Linked DNA regions of Homo sapiens. The protein of the gene in region 1 interacts with the protein of each later gene in a pairwise test. Each region holds a gene or a part of one and is shown in the gene's direction. Other genes may lie near its edges. The genes, in order: TMEM43, ZCCHC12 and FKBP8.

What was found.
Region 2: the proteins of TMEM43 (region 1) and ZCCHC12 interact in binary tests that used the Homo sapiens proteins (3 or more experiments, as listed by UniProt).
Region 3: the proteins of TMEM43 (region 1) and FKBP8 interact in binary tests that used the Homo sapiens proteins (3 or more experiments, as listed by UniProt).

Annotation. Positions count from the first base shown.
Region 1 is NC_000003.12:14,135,052-14,138,796, forward strand, and holds part of TMEM43 (transmembrane protein 43), read left to right. Parts: intron 1-106; coding exon 107-181; intron 182-755; coding exon 756-857; intron 858-3,745. UniProt on the Homo sapiens protein: May have an important role in maintaining nuclear envelope structure by organizing protein complexes at the inner nuclear membrane. Required for retaining emerin at the inner nuclear membrane.
Region 2 is NC_000023.11:118,821,888-118,825,632, forward strand, and holds the start of ZCCHC12 (zinc finger CCHC domain-containing protein 12), read left to right. Parts: upstream 1-1,936; 5' UTR 1,937-2,118; intron 2,119-2,451; 5' UTR 2,452-2,503; intron 2,504-2,701; 5' UTR 2,702-2,826; intron 2,827-3,243; 5' UTR 3,244-3,357; coding exon 3,358-3,745. UniProt on the Homo sapiens protein: Transcriptional coactivator in the bone morphogenetic protein (BMP)-signaling pathway. It positively modulates BMP signaling by interacting with SMAD1 and associating with CBP in the transcription complex.
Region 3 is NC_000019.10:18,536,851-18,540,595, reverse strand, and holds part of FKBP8 (peptidyl-prolyl cis-trans isomerase FKBP8), read left to right. Parts: intron 1-875; coding exon 876-1,045; intron 1,046-1,136; coding exon 1,137-1,225; intron 1,226-2,159; coding exon 2,160-2,380; intron 2,381-2,822; coding exon 2,823-2,995; intron 2,996-3,745. UniProt on the Homo sapiens protein: Constitutively inactive PPiase, which becomes active when bound to calmodulin and calcium. Seems to act as a chaperone for BCL2, targets it to the mitochondria and modulates its phosphorylation state.

The DNA of each region.
Region 1 (3,745 bases):
TGTGGAGGTGGGAGAAGAGCCTGAGGGGCGTAGCCGAGGCATCCTGGACCTGGGCCTGGGCCAGCTACTCCGTTCCTCACTCTCCCTGCTTCTCTTCCACCCCCAGGTGGGAGACTTGCGTGTCTCCTTTTCCTATGCTGGACTGAGCGGCGATGACCCTGACCTGGGCCCAGCTCACGTGGTAACCTGGCTTCCCAGGGGCAGACACTAAGTCAGAGCCTCACGACTTTCCTGGACACAGACACCTTGGTCAATGTCAGGAGCGCTTGGACCCCCTTTTCCCTGGGGAAAGGCACACTCTCGCACACACTCTCAGCCAGGCACGCTTCTGAGCAGTTTCAGAGCTCCCATGTCCCCACAGCCATCCATGGACCCCACGTTAAGAAGGGCAGCTCAAAAGGGGTCTCATAGTCGCACCTTATGACAGGTGTTCCAGTCACACACAGACCCTCTCCCCAAGCCCGTTTTGATCTGTCAATAATTGGTCTTGCGTTCCTGGCCTATGTGCAGTCCTGCCCCATCCCCTGCTCTGCGCACTGCCCAAGAGCTTTGAATGCCTGGAGCTTTGAATGGAGCAGCTCAGCCAGAGCTGCAGAGGTGGATGCATCCCAGATGGATGTATAGAGAGAGAAGCCCCAGGGTTTCTGTGCTCACTTCCCCAGCCGGCACCCAGTCCCGGGAGGGTGGGCCATGGCTCTCGTGGGCGTGTCTCCCGCTGGTCACCCCTCAGCTCTAACACCAGGTCCTCTGACCAGGTCACTGTGATTGCCCGGCAGCGGGGTGACCAGCTAGTCCCATTCTCCACCAAGTCTGGGGATACCTTACTGCTCCTGCACCACGGGGACTTCTCAGCAGAGGTGAGTGCTGTGCCCTACTCGTACGGTGGAGGAACAAGCATGTCCTTCCTTCCTTCCAGTGGTTATTTAATAAGATCACACTACCAGGGGTCATAGCCAGTGAATGAGGCAAGAAGAAGAAATAGCGGAATGTTGAGTATGCCTCATCAAAGTGTTTGACCAGGAGTGTTTCAGATTCCAGATTTTTTTGGATTTGCAGGTATTTGTATATACATAATGAGATCTCTTGGGGATGAGAACCAAGTCTAAACACAGAATCTATTTATGTTTCATGTATACTTTGTACACATCGCCTGAAGGTGATTTTATACAATGCAACCCGTCACATGGGGTCAAGTGTGGGATTTCCACTAGTGGCGTCATGTTGGCATTCAGAAAGTTTTGGATTTTGGAGCACTTCAGCATTTGGGTTTTTGGATTGTGGATGCTGAGTCTGTCATGAACCCTCAGTGTGCAGGACTGTGCTAGGCACTAAACTCACTGTGCCTCACAGACTGTCCGGTAGAGGAGTGAGAGTGACAGAAACTCGTAAGTACTGATGCATCGTGCCGAGTGTTGGAAAGAGGAGAACAGGTGCTCTGATACCAGTGGACGTCAGAGTAGAACATCCGTTTCTGCAGTGATCAAGCAGGGCCTCTGACAAGTGAGTTTTGCTGACGAGAAGGGGTTAACCCTAGAAGAATCAGTGATCAGTCAGTTCCAGCAAGAACAGCCCAGTCTGGGCACGAAAGGGTTCACCTTCTAAGGGGGCACCCGGAGTGCTGTGGCCACAGCCCAGAGCGGGGAGAGGGAGTGGGTGGGGGGGCTCCACCAAAGTCTGTGTCCTTCCAGAACATTAGGAGGGCGGGGAAGGGTTTTGGGCCTCAGCTACCTGAGTATCCCTCTCCCATTGTAAATAGGGAGGGCTATGCCTACCCCGGGTCCCAAGGAGAAGGGGTGCCAAGATGTGCTGATTAGTTCAGTTCTGTGCCTTAAAAGTTAGCCTGTCTTCTCTAGGCAGGCAATCCTTCTCTGCAGCAGAAGAATTGAGTCTTTAGTTTTTCTGTTGTTGATGAACACAGGTATCCCTGGTGGGGCACTCTATACCTGCCCTAACCAGGACTGCTGGGGTTTTCATTCCAGAGTGGCCAGAAAGGGTCAAGGCAGCAGACAGGCATCAGGGGTTAGCTGTGACCTTTTGTTCCTATTATTAGATCCTCAGCAGCCATCTGTCCCATTAGCCTCCAGCTTGTGGTGGTGCTTGGGCCTCACCAACTCCTGGTACCTGGCCAGGGCTAGGGTGTGGTCAGGCTGTTGCCCAGGAGCCCAGTTACCAACCTCAGGGTAGGGCTGCCACCTCCCAGCCTAGAAGGCCATGAGTCACCCTTCCACCAGCAGCTGAGGGTCCCCAGCGAGTTTCTAAAATTAGGAGGCCCAGTCCAGGCCTTGCTCTCTCTCCCAGGGCTGAGGCCCAGCTCACGCAGCCGCCCCTCCAGAGAGGAGTGGATGGGGCCCATGGCTTAGGTAATGCCCCAGAAAGGAAGGCCCTGCAGTGCAGATGCTCAGGCGGCCTCCTTACCCCCTGGGTCTCCTGCTGCTTAGCAGCCCCAAAGCCCTGTCTTCCCCCAGCCCAGCCCCCACCCCCACACAAGGTCTGGGGTCTCTGCCAAGTAGAAAAAAGGCCCAGAGCCAGGCAGGCAGCTCAGGGCAAAAGTCAGGATGCCCCGATTCCAGTCCCAGGGGCAGGAGAGTACAGCTGCCCAAGCAGGCACACTGCAGACGGCCCTGGCACTGCCTCCCACCTGCTACAGGACCTTGAGCTGGTGCTGATCTCTCAGCCTGTTTCCTCATTTGTGAAGGGGAAGATGTTTAAGTACTATTAGTAATAGTCACATCATCCCTAACTGGTTTGGTCATTGAGGATTATTCATTCATTCAGCAAGTTTTCATTGAACACCAGGTACTTCACAGACATGCTCCCTGCTCTTGGAAATGTAGCGTTTAGTTAACTGCTTGAGGTGAGACCTTGGGCACATGACTTATTCTCTCAGAGCCTCAGTTTCATCATCTGTAAAGTGGAGGTAAGTATTCCTACCTCACTGAGTGAATTTGAGAATTAAATAATACTTGTAAAACACTTAGGACAGTATCAAATAAATGGTGAGTGATAAATGTGACCTGTTTTTGTTGTTACGGACTCTGAGAGAGGGCCCGATTCAGATCAGAGGGTCAGGGAAAGCCCTCTGAAGAAATGGGGTTCAAGCAAAGCTCAAAAGAATATGTAGGAAGCTGGCCAGGCATGACTGCAGGCAATCGTTGTAGGCAGAGCAAACCCACGCGCAGATACACAGGCGAGAGGACACTTGACCTGGACTGGGGACAGCAGCCAGCAGGGTCAGGGCACTGGCAGCAGGGTCGGTGTCCGGGGGGTGTGGCAGGGCTCTGGCAGGTGACTGTGTGGAGAACACAGAGTGGGTGATAGAAGCAGGGCCAGTGAGGCTCCTGCGGGCAGACAGTGGTAAGAGACTCGGGAATATGTGGCCTGGACTGGATGGGGTGGTAGGGGAGGAGCGAGCCATGTCTTTCCCATAGATGTGAGTGGGTGGGTGGGTGTGCCATGTGCTGAGATGGAGAAGGCGCCAGTGTCAGCACTAGACAGGCTGAGATGTCAAGTGGAAATGTCAAGGAGGTGGTGGAGGTGGTGGGAGCTGCAGGGCTGTGAGGCCCGGGAGAGGGCCAGAGCTGCAGCTTTAAATTGGAGGGTCACGGCATGTGGAGGCCAAGGAAGCAGATGGGATGTCCGGGGAGAGAGTATGGACTGAAGCAGCTAAAGAATTGCAGCATCTAATGGACAGGAAGAGGGGCAGCGACAGCGATGGAGCCTGAGAAGGAGGGTGCAGTGTCCCCAA
Region 2 (3,745 bases), on another chromosome or scaffold:
CCCAAATTCATTGTAATCCTAACCCTCAGTACCTTAGAGTGTGACTGTATTTAAAGATAGGGCCTTTAAAGAGGTTATTAAGGTAAAAATGAGGCCCTTAGGGTGGGCCCCAATCTGACTTGTGTCCTTATAAGAAGAGGAAATTTGGACACACTGAGAGAACCCAGAGGCACATATGCACAGAGAGGATGGCCAAGCAAGAGGGCAGCCATGTGCAAGCCAAGGAGAGAAGCCTCAGGAGAAACCAACCTTGCTGGCACCTTGAAGTTGGACTTCCCAACCTTCAGAACTATGAGCAATACATTTCTGTTGTTTATAAACCACCCAGTCTATGGTATTTTGCCATAGCACCCCAAACAGACTAAAACAGCACTGTAACAAATTATCACAAACTTGGCTTAAAACAAGAGAAGTTTAATTTCTCACAGTTCTAGAAGCCAGAAGCTTAACATCTGTTTCTCTGGGCTGAATTCAAGGTGTCAGTAGGACTGTGCTTTATTCCTTGCCTCTTCCAGTTTCTGGTGGCTGCTAGCATTCCTCTGCTTATGGCCACATCACTAATCTCTGGTCATTGCCTTCTCTTCTTGGTGCACCAACTCTCCCTCTTTTATAAGGGCACTTGTGGTTTAGATTTCAGCCTGCCTGGAAAATTAAGTCAAAAAGCCTTAACTTAATCACACCTGCAAAGACCATTTTACTTTATAAGGTAACATTTACAGGTTTCAGGGATTAGGACTTGATACATTTGGGTGGCCATTATTTAGCTTCATACAGAGTCCGAAATCTTTGCATACAATTTCAGGAAGATCATGGATTCCAGGTAGGCACATCTGCTCTGGAGTTGCATTTCACCACAGATACCTGTGGACAGATATTGGAGACAGGCTCATTTACTTATTCACAAACCTTGCTACAACTCAGAACCAACCGCAGCGCCGGTTAAAAATACTAAATACAAAACCACATCACAACCGCTAGTCCTAGTAAATCTGAATCCACCAGAGTTGGGGCCCAGAGCCTACATTTCTTTTCTTTTCCTTTTTTTTTTTTTTTTTTTTTTTTTTTTTTTTTTTTTGAGAGGGAGTCTTGTTCCCTTGCCAGGCTGAAGTGCAGCGGTGCGATCTTGGTTCACTGCAACCTCCGCCTCCCAGGTTGGAGAGATTCTCTAGCCTCAGCCTCCCAAGTAGCTGGGATTACAGGCACGCGCCATCATGCCCAGCTGATTTTTTTTTTTTTTTTTGTCTTTTTAGTAGAGACGGGGTTTCAACATGTTGGCCAGGATGGTCTCGATCTCTTGACCTCGTGAGCCGCCCGCCTCGGCCTCCCAAAGTGCTGGGATTTCAGGCGTGAGCCACCATTCCCGGCCAGAAGACTGCATTTCTAACAAGCTCCCCCAAATGACTCTGATGTCTTGCCCCCATACTTGAATGGGTATTGGTTGAGAGCCTTGTTCTCCAGCTCTCCTCTCTGTTAAATGGACATACTGCTACTTCTTTCACAGTAAAAGAGGAGATGTGTGTGAAAGCCTGTTTCCGCAATGCACGTGCTAATGCTCTTCCCGCCCCTTCCCCTCTTCCCCGTCTTTTCCCTATACCAAGGTGAAGAACTTTTATTATTCACTTGATTTTGGACCCACTTCGTGTTTAATGCACCTGGCCTAAGATGCAGAGTTGAGCCCAGGGAGAAGGGACGGGTTGGGGGAGGAAGAAAGAGTCGCAAATTCCCAGGCAGATTGGCTCCATCGGTCTAATCAAGCTGCACTTGACGCTCCGCGGGCCTGCTGCGCCCCCGCCCCCTCAGGCGAAAACTCGCCTCTGCCCAAGGCTGTGCGGGGCGTCCGCCCCCGCACTTCGCTGATTGGCCGCACTAGCCCGCTCGTCACGCTCTTTTGTCTCAGCTGGCAGAGGATAAAAGCCGCCGCGGCTGCCTTAGGAACGGCGCTGCCTCGTCTCTGCTACCCCTGGTTGGGCGGCCCTGCGAAGCAGCTCCTTCGGGCAGCCCCGGGTCGCTTAGCGGCCAAGGAGGCTTCAGTTCTTTGCCGCCTGCAAGGCGGAGACCAGAAGGCGGAATCCACAGCTGGCGACGCGGGAGCATCTGCTGTCCACCAGCGGAGCACAGGTAAAGAATGGGGGTGTGATTGCCCGGCGGGGAGAGGGGTGGGGGAAGACCCACCAGTACTGGGCGGCTCCCAGCTTGGAGAATCGGTGACTGTGAGGCAGGGGTAGGAGTACTCTCGTGGCCCGGCTGCGCTGAGGGAGGAGGTGGGGTTCACCTGGATACTGCGGGCTAGGTAGGATTTGCCTGGATTTGGGGGTGGGAGGAGAGGCGAGGAGTAGCGGGGGGAGGAATCTCGAGCTGTTTGCTTCGAACATCCTTTGCATCTCCTCATCTCTTTCTGGGAGGAATATGTGGGTGGGTGTGTCCAACTCCTATTCCCTTTCTCCGTGGCAGGCCATCAAAGCCGCATCTGAACTTGAATTCTGTGCAGCTGATTGCAGAGCTGGTAGGCCGACGGCTTCCCGGGGGAAATGTAATGCTGGAGGGTGGGGGGCTGGTCTCTGGCTTATAGTCAGGAGGGGGCAGAGAGAATTTTTCGCCTGGCAACAGCGGAGGTGGTGGGTAGCAGGATGACGGGTGAAGCTGCTTCTAACCCTTCCCTTCTCTGGCCTTCTCCGCTGTGGCGCAATCTTGAAACCTCAAGGACCCGGATCTGCGACCCCCTGTGGACAGAGGTTGACCGTACCCCGGAGAGGAGCTTTCTCACGGAGGGCACTGGTTGCAGAGGCTGGAAGTGAAATAAAGACGCGCTCTTGTTTCAGAGTTCGTGTAAGAATCTGAGAAATAACAAGGGGGACGGGCGTGGGGGGCACTTTGAGAAGGGGGTGTGGTTGAGACCAGAGACCATGAGGTTAATGAGATCTTATTTTATTTCCACAAATCTGCGATCATTGTACTCTATTTGGAGAGCCCAATATCAGCTCCAGACACTGCTACACCTAGAATTTGAAGCAACAGTTACCGTCCCTCTTGGAGGACTGGTGGGAGGGATGGATGTGGCTGCAAAAAGCACCTTGCTAGCACGCAGGCATCGGGTAGCTCTGGGAGGTTGTAAGTGTCAATCTCCTACAGGATTATTTTTAGGGTAGTGGGCAAATATAAAATGTACTGCAGGATATTCAGGTAGGAAGAGAATGCAGCTGCAGCCCGCTCCCTTATTAACCAGCCCCCCTTTCTTTTTTACAGCCCCTGCTGAGATAGGAAGGCAGAGCCACCTCCTCTCCTCTCCCACCTGCAGATTAAGCTTTTCTAAAAAGCCTAGGCATCTTCTTATATTCAGATACCCTATCGTCGTCAGTCATGGCTAGCATCATTGCACGTGTCGGTAACAGCCGGCGGCTGAATGCACCCTTGCCGCCTTGGGCCCATTCCATGCTGAGGTCCCTGGGGAGAAGTCTCGGTCCTATAATGGCCAGCATGGCAGACAGAAACATGAAGTTGTTCTCGGGGAGGGTGGTGCCAGCCCAAGGGGAAGAAACCTTTGAAAACTGGCTGACCCAAGTCAATGGCGTCCTGCCAGATTGGAATATGTCTGAGGAGGAAAAGCTCAAGCGCTTGATGAAAACCCTTAGGGGCCCTGCCCGCGAGGTCATGCGTGTGCTTCAGGCGACCAACCCTAACCTAAGTGTGGCAGATTTCTTGCGAGCCATGAAATTGGTGTTTGGGGAGTCTGAAAGCAGTGTGACTG
Region 3 (3,745 bases), on another chromosome or scaffold:
CTGGCCCCTAATTTTTGTATTTTTAGTGGAGACAGGGTCTCACCATGTTGACCAGGCTGGTCTCAAACTCCTAACCTCAAGTGATCCTCCTGCCTCAGCCTTCCAAAGTGCTGGGGTTACAGGTGTGAGCCACCATGCCTGGTCATTTTTTATTTTTTGTAGAGATGGGGTCTCACTATGTTGCCCAGGCTGGTCTCAAACTCCTGGGTTTAAACAGTCCTCTCATTTCAGCCTCCCAAAGTTCTGGGATTACAGGCATGAGCCACCATGTGTGTCCTTTGCTTAACTTATAAATTCATCCCACTTGGTGCTGTGGTGGGGACACTGTGTCACAGGGGCTCTGCTAACCAAAGGTCCCATGAGCACCTCATTTCATGGCTGGGTAAACCGAGGCCCAAACATCTCAGGGCAAGGATTTCAGCCTGAGGGCTGTTTGTCCTCTCTGAGCTTTGGTTTTCTTTCTTTTTGAGGAGGGTGGGGAGACTGGGTTCTTGCCATTTTGCCCAGACGCTGGGCTGAACTTGTGATTCTCCCACATTGGCCTCTCAAATAGATGGAAACTCGGCAAGTCTCAGTTTTCTTAAAAAAAAAAAACAAAAAAACAAAAAAACCAGACCAACCATTGTTCACTGAGCTGGTCTCTAGCACCAGCACTGTCACCCTGAAGTCTGTCCCATCCTGCCCAGTGTCCTGCACGTGGGGTTCCCCACTCTGGTGGCAGAGTGGCCATTGGAAGTTTGGTTTGTGCCCCAGTGTTGGGCCAGCCCCCTCTGGACAGCTAGTGGGCAGAGCTGAGGGTAGGAGTGGGGGCTCAGGGGAGCGGGTGCCTGTTTGAGCTGCCAGGTGACAGGCTGCATGTCCCTGGACCCTGGCAGGGAACGGGCTGTTGAGGAAGAAGACGCTGGTCCCAGGGCCGCCAGGTTCGAGCCGCCCGGTCAAGGGCCAGGTGGTCACCGTACATCTGCAGACGTCGCTGGAGAATGGCACACGGGTGCAGGAGGAGCCGGAGCTGGTGTTCACTCTGGGTGACTGTGACGTCATCCAGGTGCGGGCTGGGGCGGGACAGGGCAGGGGCGAGGGGCGTGCCTTGCTGGGTCTGAGTCTGCCTGACAGCTGGCTATCCCCACACACCCCAGGCCCTGGATCTCAGTGTCCCACTCATGGACGTGGGGGAGACGGCCATGGTCACTGCTGACTCCAAGTACTGCTACGGCCCCCAAGGCAGGTGAGAGTCAGCCACCCTTAGGTCTCTGCAGGTCTCAGGAGGGGGATGGGTGGAGTGGGTGTACCCCTCGGCTCACCCCATCTACTTGCCCATTTTATAGACAAGAAACTGAGGCTGGGTGAGGTGGCTCACACCTGAAATCCCAGCACTTTGGGAGGTTGAGGTAGGAGGATTGCTTGAGACCTGGAGTTCCAGACCAGCCTAAGCAATATAGACCGCATCTCTATACAAAAAAATTTAAAAATTAGCTGGGTGTGGGCCGGGCGTGGTGGCTTACGCCTGTAATCCCAGCACTTTGGGAGGCCAAGGCGGGTGGATCATGAGGTCAGGAGATCAAGGCCATCCTGGCTAGCACGGTGAAACCCCGTCTCTACTAAAAATACAAAAAATTAGCCAGGCGTGGTGGTGGGTGCCTGTAGTCCCAGCTACTCTGGAGGTTGAGGCAGGAAAATGGCGTGAACCCGGGAGGCGGAGCTTGCAGTGAACCGAGATTGCACCACTGCACTCCAGCCTGGGCAAGAGAGCAAGACTGTCTCAAAAAAAAAAAAAAAAAAAAAAAAAAGCTGGGTGTGGTGCACACCTGTAGTCCCAGCTACTGAGGAGGCTCAGGCAGGAGGATCACTTGAGCCCACGTTTTTGAGGCTGCAGTGAGCCAAGATTGCACCACTGCACTCCAGCCCGGGCAACAGAGTGAGAACCTGTCTCTTAATAAAAAGGAGGAAAACCGAGGCTTAGGGAGGGGAACTCGTTCGTCAAGTCCCGCAGCTCCAAGGCGGCAAGTCACTTCCCCTGCACTTTACTGAGGAGGGAATGATGGAGGGCAGAGGGGAGACAGATCGGGGGCTTGAGCCAAGCTCACTCCTTCCTAGCCAGCCCAGCGGGTTTAGGGGTCACCAGGTCTGAGTGCTGCCCCTGCCTGCTCCCACCCAACTAGCAGGAGCCCATACATCCCCCCGCACGCGGCCCTGTGCCTGGAGGTGACCCTGAAGACGGCTGTGGACGGGCCTGACCTGGAGATGCTCACGGGGCAGGAGCGCGTGGCCCTGGCCAACCGGAAGCGGGAGTGCGGCAACGCCCACTACCAGCGGGCGGACTTCGTCCTGGCCGCCAACTCCTACGACCTCGCCATCAAGGCTATCACCTCCAGCGCCAAAGGTGACCGCCTGGGTCAGATCTCCACCATCTCCCCTGCAAAGGTGTCCACTCCGTGCCAGAAACTTCCAGCCCCAGAGAGCCTCAGACTCAGAATATTCTAGAATAGCCCAGAATATGGGTAGATCCCCAACTGCCCCTAAGCTAGGGCCTGTTACAGACTCGTGGTATATCCCAGACCAGTGGAGTGTTGTAGAATGCAAGTGGATATGGGGATGGGGTGACCATAGACAGGGCCAGTTCACATGTACCACAGGCTAGGCCCTCGCTTGCTTAAGTCTCCATCTTGTAGCTTCCTCAGGAGAGCCCCAGGAAAGCGTGGCCCTTGGTCCGGGGTTAAAATTGGGGAAACTGAGGCCAGAGAGGCAGCCTCCGCAGAGGGGTGGGTGCCGGGGTGTCTGGTGGCATGGTGACGGCTGCCGTGGCGGGCACTGTCTCCCAATAGTGGACATGACGTTCGAGGAGGAGGCACAGCTCCTGCAGTTGAAGGTGAAGTGTCTGAACAACCTGGCGGCCTCGCAGCTGAAGCTCGACCACTACCGCGCAGCCCTGCGCTCCTGCAGCCTTGTGCTGGAGCACCAGCCAGACAACATCAAGGCTCTCTTCCGCAAGGGCAAGGTAGGCCACACCGGGGTGCCAGGCCGGGTCACTCAGCCTGGGGTATACGGGGTGGTCCCCAACCCTGCATTTGAGAAAGGCATAGGTATATAAGCCAGCTGAGCTCTGTGGGGTGCAGGTGGAGAAACTGAGGCCCAGACGGGTGCAGGAGTGTGGCCTGGTCACAACAATTCATTGGCTGAGGCCAGAATTTGATCCTCGAGTCTTGGGTCCCCAACCTTTGGCCCAGTGTTTTTTGTTTGTTTGTTTGTTTGTTTCTTGAGACAGAGTCTCACTCTGTCACCCAGGCTGGAGTGCAGTGGTGTGATCTCAGCTCACCACCGCAACCTCCTCCTCCTGGGTTCAAGCGATTGTCCTGCCTCAACCTCCCAAGTAGCTGGGACTACAGGTGCGAGCCACCACACCCAGTTAATTTTTGTATTTTTAGTAGAGATGTGGTTAGCCATATTGGCCAGGCTGGTCTCGAACTCCTGACCTCAAGTGATCTGCCCGCCTCAGTCTCCCCATGTGCTGAGATTACAGGCCTGAGCCACCGTGCCCGGCTTGGCCCAGTGTTGAAACCTCCTCCCATAGAACCTCCATGGGTCCCAGTTTTCCTCAGAGTAAAGTGGAATCCTAGTCACAGCCCTTGGGGCCTTGAGTTGTCTGGTCTTCCCCCTCCTGCTATCACTTCTCCCACCTCACTTTCTGCTTCTCTCCATCCCACGTGGCATTCTCCCTTTCTGCTGTCTAGCCAGGCTCTCTCCACCT